2 separate regions of the Homo sapiens genome follow, and region 1 is reported to be linked to region 2. Evidence: microRNA targets listed by miRTarBase, many of them from high-throughput screens and not tested one by one. Region 2 holds a microRNA gene; the other region holds the end of a gene's coding sequence.
What was found. The annotated mature microRNA hsa-miR-4715-5p reads AAGUUGGCUGCAGUUAAGGUGG and lies in region 2 at 1,553-1,574, shown strand. An mRNA with a match to its seed (bases 2 to 7 or 8) in the 3' UTR can be bound and repressed. Matches are read on the target gene's strand: a 7mer-m8 pairs with bases 2 to 8, a 7mer-A1 pairs with bases 2 to 7 and ends in A, and an 8mer does both.

Region 1 (3,000 bases), not on the chromosome of region 2:
TGCAACCTCTGCCTCCCGGGTTCAAGCGATTCTCCTGCCTCAGCCTCCCAAGTAACTGGGATTACAACCGCCCGCCACCATGCCCAGCTAATTTTTGTATTTTTATAGAGACGGGGTTTCACCATGTTGGCCAGGATGGTCTTGAACTCCTGACCTCAGGTGATCCACCCGCCTCAGCCTCCCAAAGTGCTGGGATTACAGGCGTGAGCCACCGTGCCCGGCCAGGAAAATATTTTCATCTAGAATTTTAGCAATTTTTTGAGAATAACCAGTAATAATTTTCTTTTTCATTTTAGGTACTCCAGTAATTAAAGGGGATGAGGAAGAAGACAACTAATGCCACGCTTTCCACTGTGTGTTAACTTATTTAAATGTCATAAGAACAATAGATAAATTTTATATAATTGTCTATTTTAAAGATTCTGTATGGGACAAAAGTTTCTTAAGATAAAACAGATCACTCATTCTCATCTTTTTTTTTCCTTTAACTTATTCAGTGTTTCTCCCCAAAACTGGTAATGCCAACCTTATATATCCTATTTCTCTTTTTAGAAACCACAAATTTTCGATTTTTGTCTTCAGTCTCAGTTACGTACTGTGTAGCCCCATCTACTAAAACAAAACCTTTGTAGACCAGTCATTTTTAATAACAAAGGAACAAATGTTTTTTTCAGTTTGTTCATTTTTTTTAGGTTAGACATTTTAAAAGATGTACATTTGAAAATTCAGAACATTTTTCCTGAAGGTCTGTCTCTGTACAATTCAGAAGCACATGCCTTTAGCTCAGAAGGCAGCATGGTGATGGGAAGAGTTCCTCTTAGAAATACAGCAGGTCCGGAACCAAGACTCCAAAGTTCCATTGGAAAAGATATGGTGAAAAAAGGAAAAAGTAGTATCTCAGAGACCTTCTAGTCTATATTATACTTATTTGTTTTTCCAAAAATGTGCACATTGTCAACTGGAATTTAGGTTGTTTTTATATGCATGGCCACTTGAGTCATTGTGTACAGTCATTCTGTGATCTCAGTTAGTGGTTAAAATGACTGTCATGATCATTTCTTTGACTGATAATGTGGCAATGTTACTCATGTGGACCTCGCCTTAAGCACACATTTTGGTTTTATAGTTCCTTATGTGTTTAAAGCATTAGTTATATTTGAATTCCTAGACTAAATGCTGGCCATTGATGTATGTCAAAATTTACCCTAATTATTTGGTCTGGTGACCCTCATTGTTGGGAAAAGTGACTACCATGGTTATAAGTAAGGGTATAATGAAACTTAGTATTTCAAAATATATTTTTTGAGAAGTTCTAAGTTAAACAGCTCTTAAAATGTATTATGTACGTGGTTGTGGAGGGAAGGGAGATGTTTCATTATGAGATCCCAGGCAAATGGCAATATGTTTGAGGATTGTCTCCTACATAAAGCAGTGTAGGTGATTTAACCTCAAAATTGCAAAGCAATAGTTAGATGCAGAGGTTAGAATTTATCATGTAAACAAAAAATCCTTCAGGAAAATGTAAGACATTGTAGTCAGTAAGCAGATGAGGTCATAGGAGGCCATGGCTGGATCACTATTAGATTGCAGAAAAGAAGTCAGGGGCCCTCTGCCAAATTGTGCCTAAAGTCCCTCAGAGACTGTTGATTCTGGTTTCCCCATCTACTTGTGTGATTTTACTTGCATAAAATCACAGTGAAAGAGGGAAGAATCATCTTTAAAAAGTGATTGCATAAGTAGTCCTGGGTTTCAGAAGATTTCAGCTATCATTTACATAGGAATTACTTGATTTTTCTAAGTTACTCTGATCAAAAGGGACCACTGCTTTGACAATCAACTCTAAATACAAACAAGAGGCCAGGCGTGGTGGCTCATGCCTGTCATCCCAGCACTTTGGGAGGCCGAGGCGGGCGGATCATCTGAGATCAGGAGTTCAAGACCAGCCTGACCAACATGGTGAAACCCCGTCTCTACTAAAAATACAAAAATTAGCCAGTCCTGGTGGTGGGCGCCTGTAGTCCCAACTACTCGGGAGGCTGAGGCAGGAGAATCATTTGAACCCGGGAGGCGGAGGTTGCAGTGAGCCGAGATTGCGCCATTGCACTCCAGCCTGGGCAATAGAGCGAGACTCCATATTTAAAAAAAAAAAAAAAAAAAAAAGAGGAAAACTTGGTCTAACACCCTTTTAGTTTTCTTTTCTCTCTTCTTTTCAATCTGATAGGAAGAAACCTTATTCTACTCTAGCTGGTTTATGCATTCAAAGCCTTTGGACATTTCTTTTATGAACCATAGGCAATGAGCCTTCATTCTCCTTGGTGATGTTTTAAGTTCCATAAACTGAGAGGGAAGATGATCTTCTTAAAGTTTGCACTTCCTTCAGTAGGCAAGCTTGAAGCCATGTTGATATGGATATGTTTTCTAAAAGTAACCCTGGAAGTGAATATAATAGGAAGTAAGTGATTTCATATTGAATTTATTTGTAAAATGGCTTAGAGTTTTGGTGTTTGTTTTTTCTGAATTCTGTAATATAGAAACTGGTTCTCTTTCTCCTTGTTTCTCAATGACTTTTAATTACAGGTAGTTCTCAGACAAATGTAAGATACTTTTCTCTGTCCATTTCATGCAAAATTCATATTCAGTATCATTCAACAAATCTTTGAATGACTTCTATGCATCCCTGTTCATGGAACCCATGCCATTAGAAAATGGCAGTTGGGATGTATGAAGAAATGTAGGATATTCTCTCAAATCATTCCCTAAATTATCCTTTACTGCTGCAAATTTAGCTGATAAAACTGCCTTTGGTTTATGCCTCTTGGATCAGATATTTGACCTATGTGGAATAGATTATCTCTGTGCTTCCGGTTTAAGACATTACGCCATTTTAGTGGATCATTTAAATTTTTTCTATTCTGTTTTTTTTTGTTTGTTTGTTTGTTTGTTTTAAACAGAGTCTCACTCCCGAGTAGCTGGGACCACAGGCACGTGCCATCATGCCTG
Region 2 (3,537 bases):
CTCGGTCATCTCCAGTGCTGCACCTTGGCCCAGGAGCATGGTTGACTCAGAAAACCGAGAGCATTGTGAGAGGAAAGACGAGGCAGGGAGAGAGCGAGCTGGGGAGGCCCCTGTTCCTGCTGGGTGCTCCCCACTGACTCTCTCTCTCTGAACAAGCCAACCATTTTTGAACATAAGTCAAAGCGATATTTTCCAGAATGTCTCATACACATAATGGGCTACAATTGTTCACCTCCACTGAACAGTTTCAAAATATACGTGGCATGTAATTATTTTCTCAAAAAGGGTAATCTTATCGACCTGCGTGATTTAATTATATTTAGTTATGTATGTCTTGTCCCTCATAATTAATTGGTAGAAACCTAGGTAATGGCATTTCATAGTGCCATCGTGTCATTGTCATTATTTTATTTATTCGTGTTGCCAGGACAGACTTTAGTCAAATCAGATGTGTGTGTCTTTTTTAACTCTCATTGTGACTTGCATTGTAATATTTTCCATGTACACATTTATTTTTTTTTTTGGAAAGAAAATCATTGCTTTTAAGCAGGATGGAAAGTTTGATTCATTCCATAGAAATCTGGCTGCTGCCTGTGGTCTTTCACATCCATGGGGAGCATGTCTGGGGGCCAGGAGGCCATGCTGACAGAGACCCTCAGGTTCTCTCTGGCATGGAGGTGAGAGCCAGAGTTGAGCTCAGTCCTGCAGCTGCGCCGTGCTCCTCCTTGATCACGGTTAAATTCCTCCGTTTCTGGTCTTTTCTCTTTTTCTCCTTTCAGTTTCCTATCCTGTGTTAATTCCTCTGTAAAGCGTCTGGCCAGACTTAATGGGAATTCCTTCATAATGCGCCCTTGGGACTTGGAGAAGGCGTAGAAGGAGGGAGGGTGGTGTCTGTAATTCTTGGCTCTGTTCCCAACTACTGCATGCAGTGACATCTAAACTCAGTTCCTGCTTATTCAGTCCTGTACTAAGGATGTCTTTTTATTTTCTCTTGTCTGGTGCTTTGACATCTGGAGCCTTGCTGCCTCCGGAGGGACAGGCCCTCCCAGGGCTAGATAATTCCTAGAGATAGCAAACAGCATTGCTGCAGCATGCCTTACGTGTGCAAGCCACCCAATCCAACGTCCACACCCTCGGCCCCCTCTGTGTTTCATCCACTGTGCACCTGCTCTCATCACCCCAGGTCCAGCCACCAAGCAGCTAGGGACAGCCCTTTGTCCCAGGGTCCACCGAGGTTATTCAAACTAATGGATTCTAAACCTGCTTACCCCGCCTCTCCTGTTCTTTCCCATGGAAGGCACAGAAAAGACTCTCCCTCCTCTCACCAAGGTCTCTGCCTCCTAGGACGCTGGTCTCCCCTATGTTCCCCCTCCCACAGCGGTAGGTGTGGCGAGCTCCTTCTCTGGAGGACTCTGAGTAACAAATCCTCTTTTCAATGGCAGTCCTCTCCTGACCTGTCAGCCCCATAGTGCTTGAATAATAATAGAACTTAAATTGTAAAACATCCCTGGAGCTACTGCCCTCCCTTAGGTCCCATGAGAAAGGGGAATGAAAGTTGGCTGCAGTTAAGGTGGCTAATCAGCTGATGGTGCCACCTTAACTGCAGCCAATTCTAATTCCCCTTTCTCTTGGAAAAAGATGGGGAGATTATTCTGGAGTGAATTGTGGGCCCAGTGTAATCACAAGTCTGTAAAAGTGGAAGAAAAGCGGGCAGAGAGATCCGATATGAATACTACTTAATTTGCCATTGTTGGCTTTGAAAGTGGAGGACCTAGAGTCAAGGAGTGTGGGCGGCCTCTAGGAGCTGGAAAAGGCAAGGAAACATTCTCTCCCGCCGCCCTGCCGAAACCATCGTTTTGACCCAGTAAGATCCATGTCAGATTGACCTCCAGAATTGTGAAATGACAGATTTGTTTAGCCGGTGCAGTGGCACAAGCCTGTAGTCCCAGGTCCTCAGGAGGCTGAGGCAGGAGGATCACTTGAGACCAGGAGACTGGGGTTGCACTGGGCTGTGATTATGCTACTGCACTCCAGCCTGGGCAAGACCCCATCTCTATAAAATGAAATAAATAAAATAAAACTCCCCAAATTTGTGTTACTTCAAGCCACCAAGTTGTCATAATTTGTTGCCGCAGCGGGAAGCTAATACATGTGTTCATTGCAGAGTTTAACAAACAGATACCATGTTTATTTTTTTGTTTGTTTTGCATCCTCATTTTACAGATGATTAAAAAAAAAAAACACTTTTTAGAGGCCAGGTCTTGCTGTGTTGCCAGGCTGGTCTTGAACTTCTGGGCCTCACACAGTCCTGCCTCAGCCTCCCAAGTAGCTGGAAATACAGGCTCTATCTGCCATGCCTGGCAGAAACCACCTTCTTAACTACAGCTTTTTGTGTGTTAATATTGATTAAGATGATTTCCGTTAAAAAATGGCTGTAGGCCAGGTGTGGTGGCTCACATCTGTAATCCCAGCACTTTGGGAGGCCAAGGTGGGTGGATTGCTTGAGCTCAGGAGTTGGATACCAGCCTGGAAAACATGGCAAAACCTCATCCCTACAAAAAATACGAAAAATTAGCTGGGCATGGTGGTGCATGCCTGTAGTCCCAGCTGCTTGCGGGGCTGAGATTGTTTGAGCACAGAAGGTTAAGAGTGCTGTGAGACGTGATTATGATTGCACTACTGCACTCCAGCCCAGGTGACAGAGTGAGACTCTATCTCAAAAAAAAAAAAAAAAAAAAAAAAAAAAAAAAAAAAAAAAAGGCTGTAGCTGTTTGAATTAGCTAGGAATATATGGAATAGCTCCAAATTGCTTAGTGGGATCATGAAGACCCCGTGACCCGCAAAGATCATGATACGGTGGAAAAAAGGTGCTTTTTAAAATTGTTGTTCAAATACTTAGTGATAAAACTTCACGTATTTCTCTAGCACCATATACTTGCCTGAATTTTTATGAATTTGTATGGTACCATTCTTAGCTAGCTCTGTGAAGAGCTTATAAATTCTTCATTGTTCCTGTGAGGAAATGGGAGCCCAGAGAGGGAGGTTTCAGTCCAAAAGGGGCAGAGCCTGGGAGCAGAACAGGTGGCCCTGGGGCTCTGGGGTCCCAAGAGATGTTACTCAGGGCCACTGGCTGAGTGCCTGCGCGTGCTGCTCAGTCAGAGCCTCCTGTGTCCCTTTGATCTTTGATGTGTGTGGATGAGATCAAGTTGTTTAAATATTTCTGGCTTTTGAGAAAGTGTCTAACACCAGATAGTTATCCTGATAAAAGCCAATACCCAGAATTTAACAAGGATAGCTGACAAAGATGCTCTATGGATGCTTTTTAGAAAAATGTATATGTTATTGATCCTTTTTAGTGTAGCTGGTTCATTACAGCCACAGTCTTCAGATGTTTTTGATCTCACACCTCTATCAGTAAAAAGTGGGCATGTGCACCCAAAGTGGGGGTGTGTGTATTTATTTATAAATTACCGGCATGTAATGCATAAATATCTTATATCTATTGAAACATACAAAATATAAATGAAAATAAAATAA

Region 1: miRTarBase lists DNAL1 as a target of hsa-miR-4715-5p. Seed matches in the 3' UTR shown: 7mer-A1 at 2,021-2,027.

The regions. Positions count from the first base shown.
Region 1 is chr14:73,695,606-73,698,605 of GRCh38, forward strand. It overlaps DNAL1 (dynein axonemal light chain 1), which reads left to right. Exons shown (of 8, transcript NM_031427.4): 8 at 297-3,000. The coding sequence ends at 337. Among named protein-coding and RNA genes, the nearest start is that of PNMA1, 17 kb to the right of the region's middle. RefSeq lists an enhancer at 2,325-2,494.
Region 2 is chr15:25,846,832-25,850,368 of GRCh38, reverse strand. MIR4715 (microRNA 4715) reads left to right here and starts at 1,544; the gene lies at 1,544-1,622. The region is part of intron 1 of ATP10A (ATPase phospholipid transporting 10A (putative)); the gene reads left to right. RefSeq lists an enhancer at 36-85.